7 linked regions of the Homo sapiens genome follow. The protein of the gene in region 2 purifies or fractionates together with the protein of the main gene of each other region. This does not show direct contact. Each region holds a gene or a part of one and is shown on either strand. Other genes may lie near its edges. The genes, in order: FRS2, LYN, HCLS1, DENND2C, GAB2, OSGEPL1 and ANKRD54.

Region 1 (4,233 bases), on a different chromosome or scaffold from region 2:
AAAGTTGCTATATTTATGCCTTTACGTAGGAAAAAAACATTTATAATGCAAATTAGGACATACAATAGTCTTACAATATTATACAATGTAATGAAAATAAAACATAACACAAAGTTTGTCCTTTATAAAATGTATATTTTGCATTACTAATGCAAATGTGGCACACTGGTGACTACTGTACTACTTATACCAGTCTGTTTCCATGCTATAACTGTCCAATTGCCATAGAACTGCAATTATAATGATGCTACAAAAGAACTGTGTTATACCAAAAATGAGGAAGTAGGGATGGGGAACAGGGATGTAAAGAACAGGAAAGATAGATAGGGTGCTGGTTTGGGCAGAGTATACTGTGGTACGTCATAAAATATGTTAATTTTTCAAGCCAAAAACATTTTCTTTACATTCTGTAATTTCGTACCAATGCCTTTATTCAAATTTGGCAAACATCAAGGAAAAGGTAATTAGTACCATATACCTCACACATCAGAAATATGAATGAGATGCCAATACATCAGTTACTTGTGAATGATGTCTCTGATGGTATGTCTATTTCAAGAATATATGTATTTATACACACACACTACACATTGCACAAAACATTTGGGCATTATAGGTTAGGAATAGCACGGGGGAATTGGGAAGTACTTTTTCATCTGTTAAAACCTTTACCTTGAGGCAAAAATATGGCGGCACATTGTTGGGAAATTATGAAAACATAAGGCCCCTGTCCCATTTTTAATAGAACATTATTGAGGTACATTTTTATATGCTGTGCCACAGTTTTGGGGAGGGGGAGGAGATAAACACTAGCTTGACTTGTTCTATTTATAACATTGAACGCTGGAGAGGGTCAACATTAGTATCTATAAAAACAAAGATTGCTTGGCAAATTTTCCTAAGTCCCAGATATGATGTATTCTGGATATACTGAGAAGTGAAAAGCTTTTTGCTGAATCTTAAAGAGTAAAGTGCATATCTCATCACTCCACAGCAGCAGTAAATAAAAGGAAATATTTGCCAGTCTTCCTGGAGGGAGGGAAGGCACCATATTTTCATTTTTAGAAGAAGATGAAACTGGGAAATAAAACACACTAAGAAAAAACACAAGTAATACCAATATCAGTTTCCAACCCTAGCATGGGATAGATGCTGTTATGATTTGTATGGATAAAACAGTATTCTATTTGGAGGGAAAACATTAACAATGATTATATTTCCAAAACCAAAAAGAAGGATCACATGGTCTACCAACAGAATTATCTAAAATTAGATCTGCCTCAGAAAATCTGAGATATATGGCCACAATTATATGCTAATAAAATATCAATATTTCATTCTAAAATGCACCTAGTAATAGGTACATCCTTCGAGGACACAGCTTAATGCCCATTACTAAACTACTGCAAAGGACAAGTAGTATTCTAAATTACCTTTTATTAAATAGGAACACAAGTGATTTCTAGAAAATATCTAGAAATTAACACCAGTTGTATATATTTTCCTAATACTCTTATAGTACCTAAAATCAAATTCTTAGCAGACAAATTGGTCCCATTTTCCTTTTTAAAGCACATAGTATTTAAAGCATAAACTGTAATGATTATATTGGAGTTATCTAAAAAAAATAAAAACTAATTAGAATCCGGGGGAAACAATGAAAAGGATGACGGAAAGAAAGAATAAAGTACCCAACCTCCAAAATGAATAAATAGATCAGCCCTTGCATTTGGAGATTAATGTTCTGCCTTGACTGGCTGTTTCAGAAAAAAATGTGCAATGGTTCCATCATAATTCTTATTCCACATTACAAAAACTATTACATAAATTTGGCACAATTAGCAATTTACTCAGAAGAAAGGATAAGTGGAACAATATATTAAAAATGGAACCTGCATCATGGAAACTGCACACCTATACCACTGCTCTCTTTTAAGAGAACAGTGAGCACTTTAATAAGCACCAAGTTCACAGGGGAACAAAAGGGAGAAAAGAAAATTCTGCTATGCACATAGAATGATAAAATACACTGATATTGATTTATAGTAAAGACACTAAAAATGGCACTAAAACGATAAAGACACCTTTAATAATTTATTTTCTTTATAATGATCCCACTCTATTGTTCTCCTAATCCATCATTGTCCTATGATTCGGTTACTGAATAGGTTGGATGCCAATATGACTAAAACTTTTTCATGCTAAATTAACCTTAGTTATATCTGGTAGATCCAGATCATAATCTCAAACTTCCTCATATTTAGAGAAAATAGTAAAATATTTTGCAAGGTTACCTAACCTTTTCCACTCTACCTTCTCTCGTATTCTCTAGTGTTTAGGAAATTGGAACATCTTTGATTTTCCAAGAGTTTGACATATGGAGACTCTTCAGTTTATATAAACTTTAATTCATTTTAAATCCTAAATTATGATACAATCTCACTGCTACAAGACTTCCACTGTACCTGCTATGCTGGCAACAATATTAATATTTCATGGAAATCGAAGGATAATCAAAGATCCAGCTACAAGTAAAAGGACAGCAGAGCTGAGGAACACTAGAGTGGGCAGAGTACAACTGCAGCGTGTAGCTGGGGGAATTACTGCTAAAGTGCTGGGGAAGAGTGCCCACAGAGACAACACGGTACACCTTGAGGGAACTTTGCATGTTAAAAGTAGCTTCCTTTTTTTCTCAGTTTGCTAAAGAGATCACCTATGGACACAAGCAAATTTAGAATTGGAGAATGTTTTTATCAACTTGAAAAGTAAACAGCTTATAAATAAATACTGGACAAGGGCAACCCTGTTACAGACTAACAGTAAGTTCCAAATGAACCTTCAAAACCATAATTTGACAAAAATGCAAACTAAACAACAATGAACACATAATCCAATTTCAAAACTATATACAAACTCAAACATTTTAAATTGAAAAGGACATAAGGCAACAAAATAAGACATCCCAAACACCAAAGAAAAAAACTGAAGATAAATGGAAACCTAATGGCACAAATGCCTCCAGAAAACAATGTGTTGTCAACAATCTATAGGAGAAAAACTTTCAGGAGATTGTGGTTCAGATTTTCAAATGTTTTTGGGTAAAGTGACCTGAGACTGATTCTTGAGCCTATTATAATTTTAAGATATCTGGACATGCCCTTCAAATGACATCATGAGATGAGTAAATAGAAAATCTTGTCTCCTTCCTGCCTTTCAGTGCACCAACAGCAAAGCACACTCATGGACACAGGCCGCTTTCTAGTAACACTGAAGGCAAAGGAGCTGACTGGTGTAAGAGGAGGTGCGGTACTTCTGTTTCCTTTACATATGTTTTGGCTCAAGTCAAAAAGCCATTAATTAATGAAATAAAGGATTCCTCATGTTACATGCTGGAGGCCACATACTGTGAACACTGAATCTACGAGCATTACTTTCAAAGCCTATAGTTACCTGTTAGCAATGTACATTGTCAAGAGGCTTTATAAAAAGTTTTAAAAGCCAACCATGACTTAGACATGAAAGGTATGCGTTAAGTCCAGAATATTGATAAAAATCAACCAGCATGTCATTTACTTCAACTCTCATTTTAAATAGGCACTGTGAAAACGGGAATGCTGCTGTACAACGAGTAGTATATAATGAAATTAGTGTTCTTTAAGGAGTACCTGCTCTACATTAATTCCCTTTAGTTAAAGATGCACATGAAATATTCAGAAAAAAATTTTATCAGTCTATAAAAGGAGTTAGTGTTTAGAAATGAAAATGAAGCACTTGCATCTTCATTTTTAAAAACTTCACAAAGGTGCAAACAACACAATGCTTTCCAGGCTCACATGGGCAGATCAGTACTATTGTGTCTAGTTTTCCTAGATGTACCATCATCTCGTGGCAGTGCTTTCTGCAAATTTGACATAGCAGCAGTTCTCTCGATGTCTATCACGGCATACAGCTCTGTGCGCCTGGTAGGGGTTTGTGGAAGGGGAGTTGTAGGCGTTTTTGGAGTCTGAGGGTTGTCAGAGTCACTGCCACCTTCCAAGTCAACCTGTATGTAATTAAGCTGCCTGTGTTCTAAACTTGGGCGTCTGATATCAAAGTTAAAGACTGTTGGTGTACAGTCCCGACGCCTTGAATATTCTATTTTGTGAGCACTTGCTGGCACTGTTACATTCTCTGTATTTACATAGTTATGCATTGGATCTAGATTATTATGGTAGCCATTTAGAGATGGGGTCT
Region 2 (4,233 bases):
GCCGATCAACAGCGTTGGGAGAGGGGCAGCACAGGTTCCTGGTTGCTATTGTCAACTGTGGTTTCAGGCCCAATTTGGGACTTCAGCCAGCTTTGGCTTCTTTGGGTTCTTGGCCCAGTTTATATATAATTATTGGAATGTTAGGTAGATAAGTGTCTAAGAGCTAAGAATTTTTAAAGGCTGCACTACCATGGAGTGGAGCCGGGAGGCTGGGACAGAGTCAGCTATGACCGCTCAATTGCTGCTGTCTCATCTGGGCTCCTGTAACCAACTCTGGTCTGTTTGAGCCAGGCATCGTGGTTCTATCGCCAAAAGCCTACTGTGTTATAATCGTACACTCCTTTCTTTCACACATGCTCAGCCTGATCTTCGCTCTCCACTTTTCCCAGTTTTACTGGCTTTTTCTAACAAGTCTTGTTGAACTTGGGTTACCAGCAGACAAAAGGAAACAGAGGCAGGGCTCCTCTCTCCCAGCCGCCACCAAAATTGCCACCCCGTGTCATCTGTTTCAGTAGTGCCCACTCTAGAAGGAGCTATCCTGAACTTCCTGACGCCCTCACCATGCCACTGCCTGCTGTTTCTGGGCAGCAGAGGCTTCCTAGAGAAAGTCAGACTCAGGAGCTCTGCCTTCACCTGGTTATCACCACTGCCCACCTTCTGTTGACTTCCCATCAAGGCTGTTTGAATCTTTTCCAGGGTCAGGTAAAAGCTGTGCATCTCCCCAGTGCTCAGGGTTTGTGACAGTTGGGAGAAAGGCAGGGGACACGAAGTCACTGCTCTCCAAACCTGCCCTGTCCTTTTCCTACTGTCCGTCTGGTTTCTGCTCCACTCAGCCTCTGTCCCACTTCTCAAGTCCCTCATGAAATGAAGCCTCCTGCTGTGCTTAGTGCTGTGCTGTGCTCAGTGCTGGGATGGGTTCATGTTCCTGCAGAAATTGTGGACAGGTAGTCAGGTGAGGAGCAGGGAGCACTGGGGATGCATGCACACCTGGCAGGAGAGGGTATGCCAGGCATGGCTTCCGGGAGAAGTAAAATCTCAGCTGAGACAGGCAAACTGCATAGGTCGGGTGAAAGGGGCAGGGAGGGAATGAGCGTTCCACACAGAGGCAGGGGGTGTAGAAGCACAAAGGAGGGGGTCGTGGTGAGGAGGTGGAGGGCTGAGCCGGGGCCGGGTCATACGGGGCCTTGGCAGCAGTGCAAAGGAGCTTGGACCACATTCTTTGTTTCCACTCGGAAGTGAAATACTGGACTGAATAGTCTTTGAGACTGATGTAGGCCACACTGATTATTTTACTTGAGATTTTTGTGACCATGAGAATATCATCTGCCAAATCCCTGTAGTAGTGGGCTAACAAGATAGTATTCTGGTCATGTGAAAACCCCAGCCCATTTCCCAAAGGACTTACTTTGTCTCTGATAAGAGGTTTGGTGACAAGTTTGAAGGCTCCAATGTATACAAGTGAGAATAGAAAAGATATTTTCAGCCCTAGAGGTGTTTATCAACTGGCTAACATGACACCACTGAGAGCATTAAACAGCATAAAAATAATGACAAAGCTGTGATCAGCAGCTGCAGATGGTTTTTGTACACATTGACCATCTAGGGTGAGTAAAGGGGAGTTCAGGGAAGGCCCACGGGGCAGAAGGTGAGGCCAGGGATTGGCCTAGAGGGGAAGCAAAGGCAGACCCAATACCAAGGAGCTAATCTTTTGCTAAGCAACGTGGTCTGGAACTGGCGGCCTGAAGTGCTTGATTACCAGGGATACTGTTGCAGATGACTGGGGAAAGTCAGATCCTCCAAGCCGAGCCACCTGCAATTCAAGGTAGAATCTGGCAGAATACATTCATTCCTGTGTGAAAAATTCGAATCAGAGTTTTCTCTAACTGCTTACCAGATAAACTACTACTTGGCTTTCTTTACTTCTTGCCCTTTTTCTTGCTTCTTACTTCCCTCCTTTCCTCCTCTCTCCTTGTTTCCTTCCTTCCTTCATTTCCTTGTTCCTTCCTTCTTTCCTTGCTTGCTTTCTTCCATCCTTCCTTCCCTCCTTCCTTTCCTTTCTTCCTTCCTTCTCCTTAACTTTATAATTTGGTAATGTCTTCCTTAAAAACCTGACTTTGGAACGATACTACACTTTCTATTCAGCAACGAGTAGTAGTTTTGCCTCCCTATGTTATTGTTGTGTTTAAATCCTGGATTCTTTCCTGCTGTCATACTTTGTCATGAGAGTGAATCTTGCCGGGCGTGGTGGCTCATGCCTGTAATTTCAGCACTTTGGGAGGCTGAGGTGAGTGGATCACCTGAGGCCAGGAATTTGAGACCAGCCTGATGAAACCCCATCTCTACTAAAAATACAAAAACTAGCATGGTGAAACCCCGTCTGTACTAAAAATACAAAAATTCGCCAGGCATGGTGGTGCGTGCCTGTAATCCCAGCTACTCGGGAGGCTGAGGAAGGAGAATCACTTGAACCTAGGAGGCGGGAGGTTGCAGTGAGCTGAGATCATGCTACTGCACTCCAGCCTGGGGGAGACAGTGAGACTGTCTCAAAAAAAAAAAAAAAAGAGTGAATCTTTGTGATTGTCCTGGAGGGAATGTGCAGAGAGAACTTGGAGAGCCAGTTCCATGGGCTGTTGATTAACCTGACAGAAACGACATCCTGTTCTTGATACCTTAATAATTTATTTGTATTAGCATGTCACTTTCTCCAACTCTATTTTCATAGTTGGTTCAGGCTGCCATAATAAAATTCCATAGACTGGGTGGCTTAAACGAGAGACATTTATTTCCCACAGTTTAGGGGCAAGGAAAGCCCTGGCAGGTTTCATGTCTGATGAGGGGCCATTTCCTGGTTCATAGATGGCACCATATAGCTGTGTCCTCACGTGGTGGAAGGGGCAAGGCAGCTCTCTGGGGTCTCTTTTACAAGGGCACTAATCCCATTCGTGAGGGCTCCACCGTCCTGATCTAATCACCTGCCAAGGCCCTGCCTCCTAATACTATTGCCTCGGGGTTCAGGATTGCAACATTTGAACTTTGGGGTAGGGGGCGGGGAATGGGACACAAACATTCAGACCATAGCATCTGTTTTCTGATTTGAGAAACTGGCATAATAACATCTATGTATCTACATGGATGAATTTAGCAGGGTCTTGAAAAGATTCTTCACACATTAGAAAATGTTAAGACATGGCCAGGCGCGGTGGCTCACGCCTGTAATCCCAGCACTTTGGGAGGCCAAGGCGGGCGGATCACGAGGTCAGGAGATCGAGACCATCCTGGCTAACATGGTGAAACCCCGTCTCTACTAAAAATACAAAAAATTAGCCGGGCATGGTGGTGGGTGCCTGTAGTCCCAGCTACTCGGGAGGCTGAGGCAGGAGAATGGTGTGAACCCAGGAGGTGGAGCTTGCAGTGAGCCAAGATAGCGCCACTGCACTCCGGCCTGGGTGAAAGAGCGAGACTCCGTCTCAAGAAAAAAAAAGAAAATGTTAAGACATGTTCCTTTTTTTTTTTTTAAGATGACCATTGTTGGAGATTTGGCAGAGGGTGGTCAGTTATTTTAGAAAGGGCTCAAATGGTGATTGCCATTACCCACTGTCTTTAAAAGCTGAATGATCAAAATAGTATACATGAAAAGATTTCAGGAATTCATAAGTTTTCCGGTTTTCCTTGATGGCACTTTCCAGTCACCTACCCTACATATGAAAATGGGAGCCTATTTCTGTTTTCAGATTGCAGAGGGAATGGCATACATCGAGCGGAAGAACTACATTCACCGGGACCTGCGAGCAGCTAATGTTCTGGTCTCCGAGTCACTCATGTGCAAAATTGCAGATTTTGGCCTTGCTAGAGTAATTGAAGATAATGAGTACACAGCAAGGGAAGGTATGTTGCACTAATGATCTTTAGATGTTTTATTATTGTGTTTTATTTTGTTTTTGTCTGTTTTTGACAAAGCAATTACAATAGTCACCATTAAGAAAAACTTATTTGGTACAACATTTAAGCTGTACCATAATTGTCTGCTTATGGTTCTATTCTAATAGTTTCTAGAAGGTACTCTCTTGATTAACTCCACATGATACTTTTGTTAGGCTTACAAATGCTATCAGTTGTATTTCAATTAAGCAATGCAAAACACAAATAGATTCAGCAAGATGATTCTTGTTTATTTTGTATTGTTAAAGTTTTCACTCAAACAATGAATATAATATACGGGGCTGTGGAGAAAAT
Region 3 (4,233 bases), on a different chromosome or scaffold from region 2:
AAAAAATACAGAGAGCACTTCAGCCATCCGTATGGGTTCCAGGGAAGCAGTAAACCTCTTTATCCTCTGTGAGGACAGCAGAGATCCCTCTAAGACTCATGGCAAACCATCTTCTGACCATCACTCAGCTTGTCTGTCCTCATTCCTTCCTCAACGCCCCCTTCTCTCTCACCTCCCTCCTAGGCCCTGCTCTTAATCCTTCTGTTTTCCTCTCCATCTCTCCTCTCTCCCCTCACTACCACCACCTGTCCCCACACATGTGCTTACTGCCCTGGCACCCCCTGCTCTGCACATCTGCCCCTCTGTATTCTGGGGCACCCGGGTGAGCTTCCAGAAAGGAAGGAAGGAGATCCCTGTGCTATCTGTGACCTTCCCCCTTCCAACCCCAACTCACCTCTCTGGGACTCGTGTTTCTCCGTCTCTCCCTTGTAGTCATATCCCAGAGCTGCTTTGTCCCATTTATCCTTCTCCACCCCGTACCGGCCACCAAAGCCACGAGAGTAATCTGTGGTCGAAGGAGCAGTCATGAGAGCCCACCCTTAGGCTCCAGCACACAGGGAAGCGCTGGAGAAGAGAGGTCAGCAGGAATGGGTACAGAGTGTTAGGGGCCTGGGAAAAGAGCAGGGCTTGAATACAGGGGAATTAAAGAGAAGCCATGTCTTAAGTAGTCTTTTAATTGAATATTGCTTACTTTTTCCCTCTCTTCTCTCATTTCCATGCCAAGATGAGAAGAACATTCCCATTTTCTCCCTTCTTCTTCAAGAAGGGGAAAGTATAGAGAGTGAGGAGATTGCAGAAAAAAAAAGGCAGATACATGAAATGTATGCCTTTCCCCTACTCCCATATAAGCACATAGAAATGTCAGATAAAACATAACAATTGTGTTTTAAAGAGTGAAGCTCAGGCCGAGCACGGTGCTCATGCCTGTAATCCCAGCACTTCAGGGGCCGAGGCAGGTGGATCACCTGAGGTCAGGAATTTGAGACCAGCCTGGCCAAAATGGGGAAACCCTGTCTCTACTAAAAAATACAAAAATTATCCAGGCATGGTGATGTGCGTCTGTAGCCCCAGCTACTGGGGAGGCTGAGACAGGAGAGTCACTTGAACATGGGGGGTGGAGGTTGCAGTGAGCCAAGATTGCACCATTGCACTCCAGCCTGGGTGACAGAGCGAGACTCCATCTCAAAAAAAAAAAAAGTGAAGCTCAGCAGAAAGGAAGGGAAAAAATCCTGGCTCCAGAAACCAGAGACAAAGAGATGAATCAAAGCTGTATGTGTGAAGATAATTATGAACTGACACCACAGAAAACCCAAGGGCATTTTTGGGGGATTTTTTGTTTTTAGAGGTAGAGTCTTGCTCTTTTGCTCAAGCTATAGTGCAGAGTACAATCATGGCTCACTGTAACCTTGAACTCCTGGGGTCAAGCAATCCTCCTGAGTAACTGGGACCACAGGCAGGTGCCACCATGACTTGCTAATTTAAAAAAAAATCTGTAGTGATAGGATCTCACTGTGTTGCCCAGGCTAGCCTTAAACTCCTGGGCTCAAAGGACCCACCCACCTCAGCCTCCCAAAATGCTGCAATTACAGGTGTGAACTACCACACCTGGTCAGATTTTAAATTCCAAATGTAATGAATAGGGATTAGGATCGAGGCTCTGTGATTCTAATTTCCATTTAAGAATGGGGGAGGAGGGAAGAAAGCCAGAAACGAAGCTCTGTCCACTCCTATAAGAGAGTGCTAGAAAAATTCTACTCATTTACTCAGGAAAATCATGAAGGGGGCTTGTAACCTGTTCAATATTTGATAGGGGGAAAATTTGCTTATGAGACTTGGAAACTCCAAGCCTACATCTGAGTGTAGAATGCAAATACACATTTTTTTTCCACTTATGTGATGCAGGAATTCTAAGCTGAGAAATTAACTAAATACTGATCCAGGAAAATATACATTTTGGAAAGAGTAAGCATAAGAAAGATGGCATGAATATGAGATAAAGTGATCTCAAGACAAAGTGCATTCTAAGAGACAAGAAAGACATGCTCCAATGATAAAAGAACAATACCTTACATCAGGAGTATGTATGCTGGCATAAACCTATTCACAGAACCAAAATTCATGAAGCTCTCAAATAAAAGAAAAATGTAAAAAACCAGGTGTGGTGAATGCCTGTAGTCCCAGCTACTCAGAAGGCTGAGGCAGGAGGGTGACTTGAGCCCGGGAGTTCGAGACCAGCCTGAGAAACATCGCAAGACTCCAACACACACACACACGCACACACACACACACACACACACACACACACAAATAATGCAAAAGCTGACAGAAGTAGAAAGAGAAATAGACAAATCTGTAATAGTAGTTGAACATTTAACACCATTCTTTCATTAATTAATAGGTATTTTAGGCAAAAACGAATCAGTAAAATTATAGAAGATCCAAACATTATCAACTAATAAACCTAATTGACTCTTATACAACACTATACCCCAAACTACAGAATATACTTTTTTCATGCATATAGAACATTGACCAAATAGACCATGTGCCAGTCCATAAGTCTCTAAGACAGTAAGTCTCAGTACATTTCAAAAGACTGAAATATCAGAGATCATATTCTGATCACAATAGAATTAAAGTAGAAGTCAATACCAATAAAATTATCTAGAAAATTTCCCTGATGCTCAGAAAATCAATAACAGCTTTTAAATAATACATGTGTCAAAGAAGAAATTACAAGGGAAATAAGAAAATATTTTTAACTGAATGATTTTATTTTTTGTTGTTGTTGTTGTTGTTGTTGTTGTTGTTTTTTGAGACAGGGTCTCACTCTGTTGCCCAGGCCAAAATGTAGTGGCACAATCATGGCTTGCTGCAGCCTCAACCTCCTGGGCTCAAGTGATCCTCCCACATTAGTCCCCTGAATAGCTGGGACCACGGGTTTGTGATGAATGAAAATTAAAACACACACATTCAAATATTTGTTGAATGTAGCAAATGTTTGTAGCAAATGAAGGTAGTGTTCAGAGGGAAATGTATAGCTTTTCAAGTGCCCATATAGTAAAGGAAGGCTTAAAATCAATTATCTAAGTTTCTACTTTAAGAGGCTAGGAAAAGAACAAACTAAATTAATACTAAGTAGAAGAAAAACATAATAAAGATAAGAGCAGAAACCAATACATTTTTTAAAACAAGTAAATAATAGAGAAAATTAGCAAAGCCAAAAGCTTGTTCTTTGGAAAGAGTAATAAAATTGATAAACTTCTAGTAAGAATAATTAAAAAGAGAAAAAACACAAGTAAGTAAGATCAGAAATGAAAATAGGCATTTCATATCACTAGAAATCTTACAGAAGTTAAAAAGAAGAGAATATTATAAATGAATTTATGCCAATAAACCTGACAACACAGACAAAATGAACAAATTCCTTGAAAAGCACAACATACCATAACCAACTTAAAAACCAGAAAGACTTGAACTCCATGGGAAAAAATAATAATAAAGGAAAAAAAATGTCCGTTACTATTAAGACCTCTAGAGTTGAGCCAGAAGTAGAGGCAATATTTCCCTGGATGAGGTACTTACTAAACCCAGGGCACATGAAATTCTCATAAAACAAATATCCCTCTCCTTCACTAAAATAAGTTTATAAACAAGATTACAAACCATCAAGGAAATAAATAACCATGAGGAACGCAGATTAGTCAGAAGAAATGGCACAGCCAAGAACTGCAAATAATATAAAATATGAAAGAAACTGCAAAGTACATGTTTAAAATAATTAAACAGCTTAAAGAAGTGGCACAGGGAACCATAATGAAACCATAATGTCTTATGGAAAATGAATCAGCAGATATGCAATAGAACCAAAAGAAACTCCAGAAATGAAAATATCTGATGTGGTGGCTCATGCCTGTAATCCCAGCACTTTGGGAGGCCAAGGCAGAAGGATCACTTCAGCCCAGGAGTTTGAGGCCAGCCTGGGCAACATAATAAGACTTTATCTAAAAAAAGAGAGGGAAGGCAAGGGAAGGGGAGGGGAGGGGAGGGGAGGGGAGGGGAGGGCAGGGGAGGGGAGGGGACGGGAGGGCAGGGCAGGGCAGGGCAGGGCAGGGCAGGGAAGAGAAGGGAAAGGAAGGGAAGGGAAGATATTTGAAAGAAAGTTTAAAATGCAATGGACAGCTTAAACAATAATGAAATACAGCTAAAGGAAGAATTAGTGAACTTAACCTA
Region 4 (4,233 bases), on a different chromosome or scaffold from region 2:
CCAGGTTTCAATGTCCCCACTTTCACTGAAGCGAAAAGATCAATGTTTTATTGATTCAGTAAAGAACACTGAATATCAAAAAACATTTTTCAAACATACTTTTTTATTCTGACTCTGTACAAGTTAATCTATTTCTCTGTATCTAAAGTTCCAAACCAGTAAAGGGAGTATTTTCCATTTAAATGAGAAATGGGGGATGAATGAAAATGTTTTAATTATTTTAAGAAATGTACTAGAATTTAAAAACAGGAGGTATGATTTCGAAGAACCATGATTTTTTTTTTCTAAACCAAGCTTACGAATTCAAATATTTCAAAGATCCGTTAAGGTTGGCAGACTATGGCCTACCTGTGGGCCAAATTTGGCCCACTGCCTGTTTTTGCAAGGCCTCTGAGTTAAGAGTGGTTTTTACATTTTTTAATGGTTGGGTGGAAAGATCAAATAAGTATAACATTTTGTGATGTGAAAATTATATGAAATTCAAATTTCAGTGTCCATAAATAAAGTTTTATTGGAACACAGTCCATGCTTATTCATTGAAGCGTTGTCTATGGCTGCTTTTTGGCAGAATTGGGTAGTTATGACAGAGACCGTATGGCACACAAAGTACAAAATATTAATATTTGCTATCTAGCCCTTTACAGAATATTTGCTAACCCCTGCCTTAGAAGACCATACTGCTATTCTTTTTTTTTTTTTTTTTTGTCTTGTCACCCAAGCTGGAGTGCAATGGCACGATCTTGGCTAACTGCAATCTCTGCCTCCCGGGTTCTAGCAATTCTCCCACCTCAGCCTCCCAAGCGGCTGGGACCACAGGCATGTGCCACCATGCCAGCTAATTTTTTAAAATTTTTTGTAGAGACGAGGTCTCCTTATGTTGCTCAGGCTGGTCTAGAACTCCTGGGCTCAAGTGATCTTCCCATCTTGGCCTCCCAACGTGCTGATTATAGGCATGGGGACACAGTCTTTTGTTGTTTTTTAAGCTTTGTCTATGACTTCCAAGAACTAAAGATCCAGTGATGGGATAGGAATATGCTTTCGAAGCTTTGATTGATTGTGAACGGAAGCTGGGCACAGTGGCTCATGCCTGTAATCCTAACACTTGGATAGGCTGAGGCAGAAGGAGTGCTTAGGCCCAGAAGTTTAAGATCAGAATGGGCAACACAGTGAAACCCCATCTCTACAAAAGAAAAAAATTTATGTATTTATTTATTTATTTAAATTTTTTTGAGATGGAGAGTTTCGCTCTTGTCTCTCAGGCTGGAGTACAATGGCACAATCTCAGCTCACTGCAACCTCCACCTCCTGGGTTCAAGTGATTCTCCTGCCTCAGTCTCCCAAGGAGCTGGGACTACAGACACGCGCCACCACATCCAGCTAATTTCTGTGTTTTTAGTAGAGATGGGGTTTCACCATGTTGGCCAGGTGGGTCTCAAACTCCTGACTGAAGTGACCCACCGCCTTGGCCTCCCAAAGTGCTAGGATTACAGGTGTGAGCCACTGTGCCTGGGCAAAAAAAATTGTTTTTTAATTAGCAGGGGGTCAGGCCGGGTGTGGTGGCTCACACCTGTAATCCCAGCACTTTGGGAGGCCAAGGCGGGTGGATCACCTGAGGTCAGGAGTTCGAGACCAGCCTGATCAATATGGTGAAACCCCATCTCTACCAAAAATACAAAAAATTACCCAGGCATGGTGGTGTGCGCCTGTAGTCCCAGCTACTTGGGAGGCTGAGACAGGAGAATCACTTGGACCTGGGAGGCAGAGGTTGCAGTGAGCTGAGATCACACTACTGCACTCCAGCCTGGGCAACAGAGAGAGACTCTGTCTCAAGAAAAATAAAATAAAAAATAAAAATTAGCAGGGGGTGGTGGTGCATGCCTGTAGTCCTAGTTTCTCAGGAGACTGAAGCAGGAGGATCCCTTGAGCCCAAGAGGTCCAGGCTGCAGTGAGCTATGATTGCATCACTGTATTCCAGCCAGGGTAGCAGAGCAAGACCCTGTCTCTTGAAAAAAAAAAAAAAAAAGTAAATAAGTTATATGTGCCATGCAAATAAAGAGACAGAAAAACAATTCCATAATAAAGCCAGAAGATCTACGTTCTTGTGTAGCTGTGAATTTGCTATAAAGCTTTTTACAAAGAGAAGCTCCAATAATACTTTGGGCAATACAGACAGTCCCTGACTTAATGATGGTTTAAATTAACAATTTTTCAACTTTATGATGGTGCCAAAGCAGTATGTGCTCAGTACCCTCCTTAACTTATGATGGGGTTACATTCGGATAAACCCTTCGTAAGTTTATCACATGTTGACTAACAATATTTTCAACTTATGATGGGTTTATTCAGACATAACCCTATCGAAAATTGAGGAGCATCTGTACTTCTGGAATAAATGAGTGACTTCCAAATGAAATTTTAAAAGAACAGGACTCATTTGGATGTAAAAGTTGTTCAACTTTCAATTAAAATCCATTTCATTGCTTTATAATAATAATTTGTTGGACAAAATTAGCATAGATAAATAATTCCTTCTACTTACATAAAGCAAATCATTTATTCTTGGCCCTCTTCTCTTCTAATTCTACATACTCCCTTGAGCAATTTCATCTGCTCTTACGGCTTCAATTAACACTTACTGGCTACCTCTGAAATCTGAATCACCAATTTTAGCCTGGCTTCTGGACTCTAGATCCTCTCTCGACATCTCCACTTGAATGCTCCAAAGACAATTCAAACTCAACATGAATTCAAAATGGAAACAATTATCTTCCTCCAATATTAAAAAATAAAACAAGACCCTTCATCCAAACAGTTTTCCAAGCTAAAAAACTAAGTCATTTACTTTTCTGTTCCTCTTTTGAGCCAATTGATTTTAAAGCCCTGTCAAATTCTACACCTTCACTATCTATCCTCTCCTCTCCATCCCTATTACTATTTTCCTACTCCAGGCCCCTATCCTCCCTTATCTGGACTATTTCAATAGCAACAGCCTCCTAACTTATCTCCCTACCTTTTGTCTCTCTTCATCCAATTCAGCCTCCAAACCATTTTCAGCTTATCTTTCCTAAACACCTATATCTAAAATCCTTCACTGGCTCTCCATTGTCTTTAGAATCAAGTCCAAAGTCCTTAGCACGATACTCTGGCTCTTCAAGACCTAGCATCAGAAGACTTTTTTCCCTCTTTTTCTGAATCATAACTTTTTTTTTTAAAGACAGTCTCACTCTGTTGCCAGGCTGGAGTGCAGGTGCACGACCTCAGCTCACCGCAACCTCTGACTCCCTGGTTCAAATGATTCTCCTGCCTCAGCCTCCCAAGTAGCTGGGATTACAGGCACACGCCACCACACCCGTATAATTTTTGTATTTTAGTAGAGATGGGGTTTCGCCATGTTGACCAGGATGCTCCCGATCTCCTGACCTCTTGATCCACCTGCCTTGGCCTCCCAGAGTGCTGGGATTACAGGCATGAGCCACCACGCCTGGCCCTAAATCTTAACTTTTTACTTACCTAAGTCTGTAATGTTATCTTATATCTTGTACTTCAAAGTATTAAAAGTACCTTTAACACCATATTTTTTAGTGAAACATTCTGCCAAACTGAACTAATTACTCATTTCATTGTTCCAAATGAAGGGAAGTGAAATACCACATTACCTAGCAATTTTAGTGATCCTAATGCAATCAGCAAGGAAGCTTTGCAATTTTATTTTTTCATCTTATTTCCAGGCACCATCTCCTTTAGCCAAACCACCCATTTCTACACACCCTGGCCTTCAGTACAATGGACTACAACACATTCCTCAAACATACCATATACTTGCACACTTATCCCTGGTTTTCATTCATATCTCCTGTTTCCTGACCCAATTTCAGCAAACTCCTATTCATCCTTCAAAGCCAAATTTAATATCTTCTCTCTAATCGTCCTCCCTACCACACGCAGAATGATTTTTCCTCATCAGTGGTTAAATTCTATCTATACTTCTTTCTTTTTCTTGCAACTCTTCAAACGTACCTAAATCTATACTTCTTTACAGCTCTTATCATGCTGAAATTGTAGAGCCTTATTTACATGTTGGGTTATAAGCTTCTTAAAGACAGGGAAGCATTTTCTCTTCTTGAATCTAATACTTAATTTACAGTCTGAGAACAGATATTTTTAACTTCTTAATGAAAGAAGTTATGAGGTGCTTTTTAATGAAAAATAAGCACCTCATATTGTTAAGATAAT
Region 5 (4,233 bases), on a different chromosome or scaffold from region 2:
GACGCAGACATTGCAGTGAGCCCAGATAGTGCCATTGCATTCCAGCCTGGGTGACAAGAGTGAAACTCCTTCTCAAAGAAAGAAAGAAAGAAAGAAAGTAAGAAAGAAAGAAAGAAAGAAAGAAAGAAAGAAAGAAAGAAAGAGATGGCATTTTCCGTCCCAAAAAGAAAGAAAGAAAGAAAGAAAGAAAAAGAAAGAAAGAAAGAAAGAGAGAGAAAGAAAGAAAGAAAAGAAAAGAAAGAAAAAGAGGGCATTTTACCTCCTGAGGGAAAGCAATTGGAAAGACCATGGATTTTTCATTAGAAACCATGCAGGCCAGAAGGAAAGGATGCAGTATTTTACAGGTGCTCAAAGAAAAGAAGTGTCAACTAAATAATTCAATATCCAGTGAAAATATCAGAATGAAGGGGAAAATGAGACCTTCTCAGGTGAAGGAAAATAAAGACAATTTATCACTGGCCAATCTACCCTAAAGAATGGCTAAAGGAAGTTCTCTAAACAGAAAGGAAATGAAAAAAAGAGGAACCTGAAAACATCAGCAAAGAAGAAAGCACATAGTAAACAAAAATGTAATTAAATAGTCTTTCCTTCTGAGTTTTCTAAATTAGGTTTAATGACTGAAGCAAAAATTATAGCACTGTCTGATATAAAAAAAATATTTAAGACAATTATATATGGAGGATGGCAAAAGGACATAAAGGGAGGTAAGGTTACTATACTTTACTTAAACTTGTAAAATGATGATACAGACTTCATTTAGATTATAAGACGACACCAACTGACTGTTGTATGTACAGTATAATACCTAGAGCAACCACTAAAAAAGCTGTATAGAGAGATACACTCAAAAACACTATATAGATAAATCAAAATGGAATTCTAAAAAATATTCAAGAAACTCACAGGAAGGCAAGAAGAAAACAAAAACAGAACACAAACAAAAAATAAAGTGGCAGAACTAAGCTCTAGCATATTAGAAATTATATTAAGTGTAAATTTAAATATACCAATTAAGACATAAATCAGCACAGTGGATTAAAAACATGCCCCATGATATGGTTTGGGTATGTGTCCCTGCCCAAATCTGAGGTCAAATTGTCATCCCCAAATATTGGAGGTGGGGCCTGATGGGAAATGATTGGATTATGGAGGTGGAGTTCCCCTTTGGTGCTGTTCTCATGATAGTGAGTGAGTTATTGTGAGATCTGGTTATTTAGAAGTGTGTAGTACCTCTCCCCTCACTCTCTTCCTCCTGCTCCAGCCATGTAAGATGTGCCTGCTTCTCCCTCACCTTCCGCCATGACTGTAAGTTTCCTGAGGCCTCCCCAGCCATGCTTCCTGTACAGCTTGTGGAACTGTGGGCCAATTAAACCTCTTTTCTTGATAAATTACCCAGTCTCAGGTAGTTCTTTACAGCAGTGCGAGAACGGATTAATACACCCCAACAATATGCCACCTATAAGATATCACTTCAAATACAATGATATGGGTAGGTTGAAAGTAAATTGATGGAAAAGATGTATCATGTGAATATCAATAAAAGGAAAGCAAGAATAACTATATCATCAGATATAGGCTATAATATATCAAGTAGCCCTCAGATACTTGTATAATATATCAGATAACAAGTAGACCTCAGAGCAAAAGAAATTACCAGAGACTCAGCAGGTATTATATAAAGATAAAAGGGTCATGCCACCAAGAAGATGTTGCAATTCTAAATGTGTATATATTGAACAACAGGGCTGGGTGCGGTGGCTCATGTCTGTAATCCCAGCACTTTGGGAGGCCGAGGCAGGCGGATGACCTGAGGTCAGGAGTTCGAGACCAGTCTGGCCAACATGGAGAAACCCTGTCTCTATTAAAAATACAAAATTAGCCGGGTGTGGTGGCGCATGCCTGTAATCCCAACTACTTGGGAGGCTGAGGCAGGAGAATTGCTTGCACCCAGGAGGTGGAGGTTGCGGAGAGCTGAGATCATGCTATTGCACCTCCAGCCTGGGCAACAACAGCGGAACTCCATCTCCAAAAAAATAATAAAAAAAATAAAATATGTGAAACAAAAACAGATATAAGTGAAATGAGAAACAGAAATATTCACAATTATAGTTGGAAACTTCAACCCCTGTCTCTCAACAATCGACAGAAGAACTAGATAGAAAAATCAGCAAGGATATAAAAGAATTATATATATCACTATCAATCAAAAAGATATAATTGACATTTATGGAATACTTTACCCAATAATAGCAGAATAAACATTCTTTTCAAAGTACCCATGGAACCTAAAGCAAGATAGACCACATTTTCAGCAATAAAATAAACCTTGACAAGTTAAAAATAATTGAAATCAAATAGAACTTACTCTACTCCCACAATGAATTCCAACTAAAAGACAGAAACAGAAAAATAATGGGAAAATCTCCAAACATTTGGAAACTAAACAATGTACTTGTAAATAATCCATGGTCAAAGAGGAAAGTCTCAAGGAAAGTAAAAAAAATATATATATACTGAGCAAATAAAAATTGAAAATGCAATTTATCAAAATTAGTGGGACACAGCTAAAGCAGTGCTGAGAGGGAAATTCATAGCAGTAAATGAATACATTAAATAAGAGGAAAAGTCTCAAATGAATAAACTACTATATAAAAAAATCAGAGGCCAGGTGCAGCGGCTCATGCCTGTAATTGCAGCACTTTGGGAGGCCAAAGCAGGCAGATCACTTAAGGTCAGGAGTTTGAGACCAGCCTGGCCAATATGGTGAAACCCTGTCTCTACTAAAAATACAAAAATCAGCTGGGCATTGTGGCACATGCCTGCAATCCCAGCTGCTCGGGAGGCTGAGGCAGGAGAACTGCTGGAACCTGGGAGGTGGAGGTTGTAGTGAGCTGAGATCGTGCCATTGCACTCCACCCCAGGTGACAGAGTGACATGCTGTCTCAAAAAACAAACAAAAAATAATAATGAAGCAATGTCAGTATGCAAGAATAAGGGTTAAAAAAATAAAGCAGTGGACCCACTACAGACCCTGCAGACACTGAAAGCATAATACAGGATACTGTAACTCCACTCACATGTATGTAACAACTTAGACAAAATGGACCAATTTGTTGAAAAATGTAAACTTCTATAATTCAGCCAATATGAAGTAGATAATTTGAAGAACCCCGTATCTATTAAAGAAATTGGATTAAAAATGTAAAAAATTCCTAACAAAGACATTTCCAGATCCAGATGGTTTAATCTGGAGAATTCTACCAAAGGTTTAAAGAATTATACCAGTTCTACACCATCTCTTCCAGAAGGCTAGACATGGTGGTTCACACCTATAATCGCAGCACTCTGGGAAGCCAAGGTGGGAGGACTGCTTAAGCTCCGGAGTGTGAGACCAGCCTGGGCAACGCAGGGAGACCCTGTCTCTACAAATAATAAAAAAAAAAATTAGCCAGGCACAGCAGTACGCAGCTGTCGTCCCAATTACTTGGGAGGCTGAGACAGTAGGATCACCTGAGCCCAGGAATTTGAGGCTGCAGTGAGCCATGATTGTGCCACTGTCGCCAGCCTGTGTGACACAGCAAGATTCTGGTGGGGGTGGTTGGGGGGGGGGATGGTGGAAGGAGAAGAAAATAAACGAAGGAAGAAAGACATATATAAATAAATGTAAAATAAATTCATGGACTGGAAGATTTAATATAGTAAAGCTGTAATTTCTTCCCAAATTGGTACACAGGATTAATGCACTTCCTATTAAAATCTCAGCAAGACTTTCTTTTTTTTGCATAAACAAGATTATTCTAAAATTTGTATTGAAAGGTAAAGATAATAGAATAGCTAAAACACTTTGAAAAATAAGAATAAAGTAGAGGAATCAGGCTACCAGATTTCAAGACTTACAATATAGCTAGAGTTGGCAAGATTCTATGGTATTTGCAGAGGGACAGACACATGGAAAAATGGACCAAAACAGAGACAACAGAAACAGACCCACACAAATACGTCCAACTGATTTTTGACAAAGACGGAAAAGCAATTCAATGGAAGTAGGATGGCTTTGTCAACAACAATGACAACAACAAAAGAACCTCAATCTAAGTCTCACATCTTACATGAAAATTAACTCACAGTGGATCACGGACTTAAAGGAAAAACATAAACCTGTAAAATGTGTAGAAAAAAAAAAACCAGGAAAGCCGGCGCAGTGGCTCACGCCTGTAATCCCAGCACTTTGGG
Region 6 (4,843 bases), on a different chromosome or scaffold from region 2:
GATTCCAGTGTATAACAGAAATAAGCTCTGACCTCTCTAACCGTATGACTAATTTTTCTTAACTTTTAGGTTTTAATTTTTCTTTTTTCCCTTGTTTAGGCCAACAGTGCACCCTAGAGAAAATGTGAGTTATTTTCTCTTCTAGCAGTTAAGAAAACAGACTCCAGTGCCAGATGTCCTGACTTCTAATCCTAGCTTTGCTTTTCCTAGTTGTGTGACCTCCAAAGCACCCAAACTCTGTGGCCCAGTTGCCTGTAAAATGAGGACAGAAACTATTTCATGGGATTTTGAAAGAAATTAATCTACAGCAGGTGCCTGGTACATAGTGCCACTTTATCATTATTGTTACACATAAATGAAATTTTTGAAAAACATAAGTTCCAAATAAAAAACCTCAACCATATTCTGGTAATTATTTACTTATTTATCTGTATCCACCTCTAGACTGTACTCTGTGGCTTCCCAACATGTTGTTATGGGATTTACTCATCTTTTATACCCAGAGCTTCACAACGTGCAAAGTGCAGGTATATATGCCAGCCCTGTACAACAGTGGATTCTAAGGTCCTTGCTTACTAAAATCTTAAATACCAGCAGGGGAAAAGCCTGACTCTTGGAATAAATCTGTCCAATGTTCAAAACAAAGTTCACAAACCAATAAAAGAAAAAAAAAAAAAAAAGCAGGTGCAAGACTTTGAAAACATACCATGCTGAATTTCATGTACATAGTAAGGAAGGACAACATAATGCATTATGAAAATAGGATGGTTTAAGGCAACTGAATATTTACCACAGCCTTTTTTTTTTTTTTTTTTTTTTTTTTGAGACAGAGTCTCGCTCTGTAGCTCAGGCTGGAGTGCAGTGGCGCGATCTCGGCTCACTGCTACCTCCGCCTCCCGGGTCCCAGTTCAAGCAGTTCTCCTGCCTCAGTCTCCCGATTTTTTTTTTTTTTAATTGTAAAAATAAGCCAGCCCCTTTCTTCCTAGTGAAGTGGGAGAAACGGTTTACACTGTCCGATGAGAAACACTTCCGTTCTTTGGTAACCCTGCTAGGGGGCGCCGCTAGATTCCATCCTATTTCTCCGATGAAAGTATCAGGTACCTCACCCCTAAGTTTAGATTTGATGATAGTTCCCTTAAAAATGAATGACGAATAATCTACCCCATCCTTTTCTCACAGTAGCAACCAAATTCCAGCCAAGGGCAAAAAAAAAATTTCTTTTTAATGTAGCTTAGTGTTTGGAACTTGATGTTGTGTAGTCAGACAAACCTGTATTCGGCCTCCGCTGGATCAGTCACTAGCTGTGTAATTTTACAGAACTCTCATCACCTGCAAATCTGGGGGAAATGCAGGTGCGCACAGAGAGCGTTTTGGGCAAAGACGGCCTTTAAGCTTTTCTTCACTAAGCATGCCGCTCGCTAGCGGAACAGCAGCCAGCTCTGGACGGGACCTTGCACAGTTCCGATGACATCACTTCCGGGCGCCAGGTTCGGGCTTTCTCCTGCAGCGATAAGGGCAGTCGACAGTCTTTAGTAGGGAAAGGAGACAAGTGCTAGCTACTGCCGCCCAAGTGGAAGGTGGGTGAAATTGCTCACTCTTCACCCCACTGACGCTTTTGCGCACCTGGAAAAGCGGTTCCAGTTTGCGCCCGTCGCCGCCTTACAGCCGACAGGAGACCAGCGCTACCCAAGTCACGTGGGTTCAGCCTGCAGCTTTCTTGGCCCGAAAGGGTAGTGCTTCGTACAATCCTCCTTGTCCAGATTTTGTTAATGCAAATCTAATTCCTCTAGGTTGTGTCTGTCTGGGCTGCACTGCCCGCAACTGCCTTCTGCAAATAGGTCGCTCATCTCTAATCCCTGGGATGCCGTGTCCCTTTAGTGTGGTGGAGAAAGGCCCTGCTTTAACACCCAGAAAGTTTTAGAACGGATGATCTGGGGGCATAAAATTAGGTGCTTCGCAGTGTGAAAATACTAGTGTGCTTTAGTGATGGGCTGCTATTATTTTGGGGGAAAAGGATTTGGGAAGATCCTTGTTATGACAAAACCTGTAGCAAAAAGTGGAGATTTAATTCCAAAGATTGCAATTAAGGATAAAATAGGTGTTAGGTTGCAGTTGGCGTGTGTGTGTTTATGTTAACTCTTGTTTTTGAACCAAATGATCCAGTTTTATTTTGAAAGATGTTTTTAGGAGATGGAATACATTAACAGTATTTTTATCTGTTCCATCTGCCTTTGTTGTTTGATTCTTTTTAGAAAATCCACATTTTGTCTTAATTTTAGCTGTCAAAAAATAAATAGCACTTTTCAGAGGACTCTATCAATTATTGTACTTTATATTAGCTGTCTTAATAGTAAGTCTTTTGGTAGGAACAGCATGCAAGTAATAATAATACTAAAAAATTTTATATCTGACCCCTGTTTTCCCCCTTGGAGAACATTATATTCATTCATAATATTATTTATATTCCCATGTTGCTATAGCCTTTACAAACTTTTGGTGACTTTTACAAACTTTCCTGTAATTCTGTAAAACTATATATTGAAAAATAAGCTGGCTAATGTCAGTTGCAAATAATAAGTTGTTTCTGTAATTCTTTTTCAGGAATTATCTATAGAGTAAGTATGCTAATCTTGACTAAGACTGCAGGAGTTTTTTTTAAACCATCAAAAAGGAAAGTTTATGAATTTTTAAGAAGTTTTAATTTTCATCCTGGAACACTATTTCTTCATAAAATAGTATTGGGAATTGAAACTAGTTGTGATGATACAGCAGCTGCTGTGGTGGATGAAACTGGAAATGTGTTGGGAGAAGCAATACATTCCCAAACTGAAGTTCATTTAAAGTAAGTAGACATTATCTTAGTCATTTCCACTTTTTTGGAAAAAGTAAAATCATTCTTTTGTATTTGTCATATATAAAAGTTTTCAGGAGCTACTGTCTTATTCCTTTTTGCAAACACTTTTAATAACTGCTATAGAAAACCTCAAACACTTCATCCTGGCTTTTAAGGGTCTTCACAATAAGGTCCCAACCTTAACTAATCCTGTTGCCAAAAGAAACTGAGCTCATTCCCAGCTTCCGTATTTATTGATTTTCCTTCAGTAATGCATTCCTTCTTTTCTCCACTTCTATGTTTCATGGTCTCAGCTGAAGTCCTAGGAAAACTGTTAGTCATTGAAAAAAAAAATCCTATTCATATTTATACATATAACTTGTATTAGTACTTAAATAATAATACACTGTTGTATTAAAGCATAGAATGGTGCAAGGATTATAAACTGTGATGTTTATAGAGGACTACCAGGCAGGTTACCTAAATAAATGGACAAGATAAAAAGTGGAAAATGTCTGGAGGAGGTCACTACTCAGCTCTAGCCAGTTGTCATGTGGGAATGCAGGACCTGTGTTATTAGATTATTATAATTTTCAAGGGAAAATGGAAATCCAGATTTTTTTTTTCTTTTTTTTTGGTGAGACAGAGTCTCACTCTGTCACCAGGCTGGAGTGCAGTGGCATGATCTCGGCTCACTGCAATCTCCGCCTCTCGAGTTCAAACGATTCCCCTGTCTCAGCCTCCCAAGTAGCTGGGATTACAGGCACGTGCCACCACGCCCAGCTGATTTTTTGCATTTTAGTAGAGACGGGGTTTCACCATGTTGGCCAGGATGGTCTCAATCTCCTGACCTCTTGATCCACCTACCTCGGCCTCCCAAAGTGCAGGGATTACAGGCGTGAGACACCGCGCCGGGCTGGAAATCCAGATTGTTAATGTATTTGCAGATTTTTTACATTAGTAGCTAATTTAGAATATATTAAAATACTCTTGGGAGGTGGGGGGCGCCCCCGCCCAGCAGCCGCCCCGTCTGGGAGGTGGGGGCGCCTCTGCCCGGCAGCCGCCCCGTCTTAGGGGTGGGGGCCCCTCCGCCTGGCCGCCACCTCTGGGAAGTGAGGAGCCCCTCTGCCCGGCTGCCACCCCGTCTGGGAGGTGTACCCAACAGTTCATTGAGAACGGGCCATGATGACAATGGCGGTTTTGTCGAATAGAAAAGGGGGAAATGTGGGGAAAAGAAAGAGAGATCAGATTGTTAATATGTCTGTGTAGAAAGAAGTAGACATAGGAGACTCCATTTTGTTCTATACTAAGAAAAATCCTTCTGCCTTGGGATGCTGTTGATCTATAACCTTACCCCCAACCCCGTGCTCTCTGAAACATGTGCTGTGTCAACTCAGGGTTAAATGGATTAAGGGCGGTGCAAGATGTGCTTTGTTAGACAGATGCTTGAAGGCAGCATACTCGTTAAGAGTCATCACCACTCCCTAATCTCAAGTACCCAGGGACATAAACACTGCAGAAGGCCGCAGAGTCCTCTGCCTAGGAAAACCAGAGACCTTTGTTCACATGTTTATCTGCTGACCTTCTCTCCACTATTGTCCTATGGCCCTGCCAAATCCCCCTCTCCGAGAAACACCCAAGAATGATCAATAAATACTAAAAAAATAAATAAATAAATAAATAAGAATAAAATACTCTACAGATGAGTATACCTTTAAGCTATCAATTTACAACATCTGAATAGTGAAAAAGCCTGGTATTTTGGAATCACAGTCCTGTATTTGAATCCTGAATTAAGCACTTGGTATTGGCTCTGTAACTGTAGGCAAGTTCCATATCCTCTCTGATTCTGTTTTCACATCAGTAAAATAGGAAAATTGGCTGGGCGCTGTGGCTCACGCCTGTAATCGCATCACTTTGGGAGGCCGAGGCAAGTGGACCATGAGGTCAGGAGATTGAGACCATCCTGGCTAACATGGTGAAACCCCATCTCTACTAAAAATACAAAAA
Region 7 (4,991 bases), on a different chromosome or scaffold from region 2:
CAACAAAGTGAGACTGTCTCAGGAAAAAAAAAAAAAAAAAAAGCCACAATGGCTGGGCGCAGTGGCTCATGCCTATAATCCCGGTACTTTGGGAGGCCAAGGCAGGTGGATCACTTGAGGCCAGGAGTTCAAGACCAGCCTGGCCAACATGCTGAAACCCCATCTCTACTAAAAATACAAAACTAGCCATACGTGGTGACTCACGCCTGTAATCCCAGAACGTTGGAAAGCTGAGGTGGGCAGATTGCCTGTGCTCTGGAGTTTGAAACCACCCTGGGCAACATGGTGAAACCTTGTCTATACTAAAATACAAAAAATTAGTTGGGCATGGGGGTGCACGCCTACAATCCCAGCTACTTGGGAGGCTCAGGCAGGAGAATCGCTTAAGCCCAGGAGGCAGAGGTTGCAGTGAGCCAAGACTGTGCCACTGTACTCCAGCTCGGGCAACAGAGTGAGACTCTGTCTCACACAAACACACACACACACACACACACACACAAAAAACATAGGCCGGGCACAGTGGCTCACGCCTGTAATCCCAACACTTTGAGAGGCCAAGGTGGGTGGATCACGAGGTCAGGAGTTTGAGACCAGCCTGGCCAATAAGGTGAAATCCCTTCTCTACTAAAAATACAAAAATTAGCCAGGCATGGTGGTGCATGCCTGTTATCCCAACTACTCAGGAGGCTAAGGCAGGAGAATCACTTGAACTTGAGAGCCGGAGGTTGCAGTGAGCCAAGATCGCGCCACTGCACTCCAGCCTGGGCAATAGAGCAAGACTCTGTCTCAAAATAAATAAATAAATAAATAAATAAATAAATAAATAAATAAATAAATAAAATAAAAACACAAAAATTAGCCGGGTGTGGTGGTGCATGCCTGTAATCCCAGCTACTTGGGAGGCTGAGACACGAGAATCACTTGAGCCCAAAATCACACCATGGCACTCCAGCCTGGGTGGCAGAGCAACACTCCATCTCAAAAAAAAAGAAAGAAAAAATATTTCTCAATCTTAGGTTAAGTTCTAACTTAAATCAATCTAACATGGTAAAACCCCATCTCTACTAAAAATACAAAAACTAGCTGGGTGTGGTGGTGCGGGCCTGTAGTCCCAGCTACTTGGGAGGCTGAGGCAGTGAGCCGAGATTGCACCACCTGCACTGCAGCCTGGGTGGTAAAGCGAGACTCTCGTCTCAAAAAAAGAAAAGAAAGACAGTGCCCTGGGAACAAGGAGAAACTTGAAATGAGGCGGAGCTAGTACAAAGGCCACATCCTCCTGCAAATCCTCCAAGACTTTTGGAGCCAGATTTCCTCTCTATCACTTGTAGTCACAGGGTGACCTTGAGCAAGCTAGTTAACCCAGCTGGGCCTCAGGTCTATCATCTGCAAAACAAGGCTGAGTTGTTCTGCCAGCCCCGAGTTATTGCAAATGATTTACACAGAAGCTCTTTGTGAGCTGGTTACACAGATAATCTTATATTCTCCTTCAAAGCAGGTCGTTCCCAAATGATTTGCCTAAATTTGGTATTTCCTAAGCAGATTTTCCCCCTCCAATGGCTAATGGAAAGCAATGTCTTTGTCATCGGAGATATGGTCAAAAATTGCAATTCAGATACATGACAATTCCTTGCTTTCATACAGCACTTTATGGTCAATACAACGCTTCCAAATTCTTATTTCATCTTCGTGACATCACTAAAATATGGCTAGAGTCATAGCCAGTCCTGGAAGAAATCCCCAAAGTCCCCATTCTTAATCTCTCAGTGCCTGGGTTTCCATGTCACCCATGCATTGTAGAAGACAATATGGTAGATATACCAGAGGAGAAGTTTGAGTCGGGCTGACCCGGATTCTAATACCAGCAACAGCCACTTGCTATGTGACCTGGAATAAGACAATTTCTCTGAGCCTCAGTTTCCTCTTCAGTAAAGTGGGAACAATTTCTATGTCTCAAAGAGTTCTTGTGAGGACAGATGATCATGTATCAGCAGTGTTTGGGGCACAGCAAAGGCAGCATAACAGCTAAACATCCATTACCTTACTTAACTCATCCCATTTTACAGATGAGAAAACTAGGGCTGAGGCCGGGCCAGTGGCTCATGCCTGTTATGCCAGTACTTTGGGAGGCCGAGGTGGGTGGATCACCTGAGATCAGAAGTTCGAGACCAGCCTGGCAAACATGGTGAAACCCCATCTTTACTAAAATTACAATAATTAGCCGGGCTTGGTAGTGGGCGCCTGTAACCCCAGCTACTCGGGAGGCTGAGGCAGGAGAATCGCTTGAACCCGGGGGGCGGAGGTTGCAGTGAACCAAGATGGCGCCACTGCACTCCAGCCTGGGCAACAGAGCGAGACTCCGTCTCCAAAAAGATAATAATAATAAATAAATAAAAATAAAAAAATTTAAAAAGAAAACTAAGGTTGAAAGGGTCTATCATTTGCCCTAAGGTCTAACTGTGGTAAAGGAGTCCAAGTCCGTGCATTTAAACAAGCTGGTACGACTTGGCTGCAGGCTCTGGCCTCCCCTCTCCATGATAATAAAAGTGTTCCCCAGTACCTCATTTTATTATTCACCAATAAGCGTTCCGAGTCATGGGAAGTTTCCATTCAGAAATTACCCAGTGAGAGAAGACTGGGGTGACTGGCTCAGAGCAGGAAGACTTTCTAAAAAAACCATCATCACCATCGTTACTGAAAGGAGACTCAAGGGTCAGTGTGGCCCTCAGCGCAGACGTCGGGGGACCCCGGCTGAGGGTCGGGGGCGACCAAAGCGCGGCCACTGGTCCTCTGAGGCCCCGCCCCTCGCCCGGGCTGCCCCGCCCCGGGCCCCCGCGCCGCTCGCGCCGCTCACCGTGCACCTCCTTGCCCGTGGGCCCGAGCCGCCGGTGGGGCCTGGCAGCGCGCCTCAGCCGGCCAGCGGGTATCTTGCAGCGCAGCTCGTCGCGCGGCTCCGCATCCTGCTGCCACAGGACGTGCAAGTAGCGCAGCGGCGACTGGGCCCCGCCGGACGCCCGGCCCGAGAGGCCCGCGCCGCCGCCGCCCAGCGCAGACCCGAAGTCAGCGAAGGAGAAGAGGCCCTCAGCGTCAGTCAGCGGCTCCGGCGCCACCGCGCACTCGCCCTCCGAGCTCGAGTGGCCTGAGCGCGGCTCGTCGTCCGCGTCCCCGGCGGCGGCTGCCATGGCAACGGCTCCGCGCGGGCCTGGCCGCCTGAGCCTCGTTCCCGACCGACCAACGGACCTACTTCCCTCCGCCCTGAGTCGTGCTGTCAGCGAGCTGGCGGGCGGGCAGGGCCCGCAACCACGGCAACCGAGCGGGGGCGGGCTCAGGCCGAGACAGAGCGGCGAACCAATGACTACCCTTCCAGCTTAAACCGGTCCCAAAACCAATCGGAAAGGGAGGGCACAGTACAAGCAGGATAATTGGACAGGGTTTCCGGCAACGTGACTGACAGACATTGTAACCAATTACAAACTTGAAGTGACCTTGGCTTTCGCTGTACGTCGCTACCGGAGCCAGTAAAACAGCATTTCAGACGCTTTTTTTTTGCGACGGAGTCTCGCTCTGCCGCCAGGCTCGCGATCTCGGCTCACTGCAACCTCCGCCTCCTTGAAGCAATTCTCCTGCCTCAGCCTCCCGAGTAGCTGGGACTACAGGCGCGCGCCACCACGCCCAGCTAATTTTTGTATTTTTAGTAGAGACGGGGTTTCACCATGTTGGCCAGGATGGTCTCGATCTCTTGATCTCGAGATGTGCCGGCCTCGGCCTCCCAAAGTGCTGGGATTACAGGCGTGAGCCACCGCGCCCGGCCTTTTTTTTTCTTTTTCCTCTCCATTTCCCAGTCTAATGAGAAAACAAGCAGATACCTTAGCAAATCAGATTAAGATGATTTGCAGGCACTCACAAAGGAAAATGAAGAAGCCACGCCATCCATGTAGATATAGATGTTGTAAATCAATGAACGCAAAAAAAAAAAAAAAAAAGAACTTCCCACAAATGCATAATGTACGTGGGAAAGGGAAAATGTGTTGAAATTTGGAGATACCACTACAAACTGTGAGTAATAGTGTCTAAATGCAATGGATTTCCTTTAGTCAGAGTTCTCTAGGTAACCCCGACGTAGATGACTGATCTACAAAGATTTGTAATACAAAGTGATTACATTAGAGCAATAGTTTAGTTCGACAGCCAGTCACTGAGCCAGGTAACTGCTAGGTCCTGGACACAGGATCAGACTTGGTGCCCCTGAGATGCTCACAATCCAATGGGAGAAGACCAGGAAACAAATAAGTGTTCCTCAAGCAACATTTCATGGGTGCACGTTTTCATAAAACTTCTCACAATCCCGTACCCCACAAGCACTTCTATAAAGTAGACAAGAAGGACCATCCCTATTTTATAGGTGAGGAGTTGAAAAGCAGAGGGAAGAGACTCATTCACAGTTGCCCAGCTCTCACCGGACCAGGTCTTGTGTCCTGGCAAAAGTTCTTTCCATATATAAACCCTCCCACTCAACCCAGTTAAAATGTAATCTTTCCGCACGGTGGGTCACGCCTGTAATCCCAGCACTTTGGGAGGCCAAAATGGGCAGATGACAAGGTCGGGAGTTCAAGACAAGCCTGGCCAACATGATGAAACCTCGTTTCTACTAAAAATACAAAAATTAGCTGGGTGTGGTGGCGCACGCCTGTAATCCCAGCTATTCAGGACACTGAGGCAGGAGAGTAGCTTGAACCTGGGAGGCAGAGGTTGCGGTGAGCTGAGATCGCACCATGGCACTCCAGCCTGGGTGACAGAGCGAGACTCCATCTCAGAAAGAAACAAAAACAAAAAAAAGGCCTGGCGCTGTGGCTCACGCCTGTAATCCCAGCATTTTGGGAGGCTGAGGCAGGCAGATCACGAGGTCAGGAGATTGAGACCATTCTGGCTAACATGGTGAAACCCCGTCTCTACTAAAAATACAAAAAAATTAGCCTGGTGTGGTGGTGGGCACC

What was found.
Region 1: the proteins of LYN (region 2) and FRS2 purify together in Homo sapiens (affinity purification with a luminescence readout, with the first as the bait; one large-scale study listed by BioGRID). This does not show direct contact.
Region 3: the proteins of LYN (region 2) and HCLS1 purify together in Homo sapiens (affinity purification with western blotting; 2 studies listed by BioGRID and IntAct, with this or other methods). This does not show direct contact.
Region 4: the proteins of LYN (region 2) and DENND2C purify together in Homo sapiens (affinity purification with a luminescence readout, with the first as the bait; one large-scale study listed by BioGRID). This does not show direct contact.
Region 5: the proteins of LYN (region 2) and GAB2 purify together in Homo sapiens (affinity purification with western blotting, with the first as the bait; one study listed by BioGRID). This does not show direct contact.
Region 6: the proteins of LYN (region 2) and OSGEPL1 fractionate together in Homo sapiens (co-fractionation; one large-scale study listed by BioGRID). This does not show direct contact.
Region 7: the proteins of LYN (region 2) and ANKRD54 purify together in Homo sapiens (affinity purification with mass spectrometry; 3 studies listed by BioGRID and IntAct, with this or other methods). This does not show direct contact.

Annotation. Positions count from the first base shown.
Region 1 is NC_000012.12:69,574,552-69,578,784, reverse strand, and holds part of FRS2 (fibroblast growth factor receptor substrate 2), read right to left. Parts: coding exon 3,830-4,233; 3' UTR 1-3,829. UniProt on the Homo sapiens protein: Adapter protein that links activated FGR and NGF receptors to downstream signaling pathways.
Region 2 is NC_000008.11:55,994,615-55,998,847, forward strand, and holds part of LYN (tyrosine-protein kinase Lyn), read left to right. Parts: intron 1-3,731; coding exon 3,732-3,885; intron 3,886-4,233. UniProt on the Homo sapiens protein: Non-receptor tyrosine-protein kinase that transmits signals from cell surface receptors and plays an important role in the regulation of innate and adaptive immune responses, hematopoiesis, responses to growth factors and cytokines, integrin signaling, but also responses to DNA damage and genotoxic agents.
Region 3 is NC_000003.12:121,636,752-121,640,984, forward strand, and holds part of HCLS1 (hematopoietic lineage cell-specific protein), read right to left. Parts: intron 506-4,233; coding exon 395-505; intron 1-394. UniProt on the Homo sapiens protein: Substrate of the antigen receptor-coupled tyrosine kinase. Plays a role in antigen receptor signaling for both clonal expansion and deletion in lymphoid cells. May also be involved in the regulation of gene expression.
Region 4 is NC_000001.11:114,663,266-114,667,498, forward strand, and holds part of DENND2C (DENN domain-containing protein 2C), read right to left. Parts: intron 1-4,233. UniProt on the Homo sapiens protein: Guanine nucleotide exchange factor (GEF) which may activate RAB9A and RAB9B. Promotes the exchange of GDP to GTP, converting inactive GDP-bound Rab proteins into their active GTP-bound form.
Region 5 is NC_000011.10:78,407,560-78,411,792, forward strand, and holds part of GAB2 (GRB2-associated-binding protein 2), read right to left. Parts: intron 1-4,233. UniProt on the Homo sapiens protein: Adapter protein which acts downstream of several membrane receptors including cytokine, antigen, hormone, cell matrix and growth factor receptors to regulate multiple signaling pathways.
Region 6 is NC_000002.12:189,759,419-189,764,261, reverse strand, and holds the start of OSGEPL1 (tRNA N6-adenosine threonylcarbamoyltransferase, mitochondrial), read left to right. Parts: upstream 1-1,501; 5' UTR 1,502-1,577; exon of another isoform or gene 1,578-1,730; intron 1,731-2,601; coding exon of another isoform or gene 2,602-2,621; coding exon 2,622-2,842; intron 2,843-2,942; exon of another isoform or gene 2,943-3,135; coding exon of another isoform or gene 3,136-3,164; intron 3,165-4,843. UniProt on the Homo sapiens protein: Required for the formation of a threonylcarbamoyl group on adenosine at position 37 (t(6)A37) in mitochondrial tRNAs that read codons beginning with adenine.
Region 7 is NC_000022.11:37,841,060-37,846,050, forward strand, and holds the start of ANKRD54 (ankyrin repeat domain-containing protein 54), read right to left. Parts: upstream 3,276-4,991; 5' UTR 3,180-3,275; coding exon 2,852-3,179; intron 2,790-2,851; exon of another isoform or gene 2,558-2,789; intron 1-2,557. UniProt on the Homo sapiens protein: Plays an important role in regulating intracellular signaling events associated with erythroid terminal differentiation.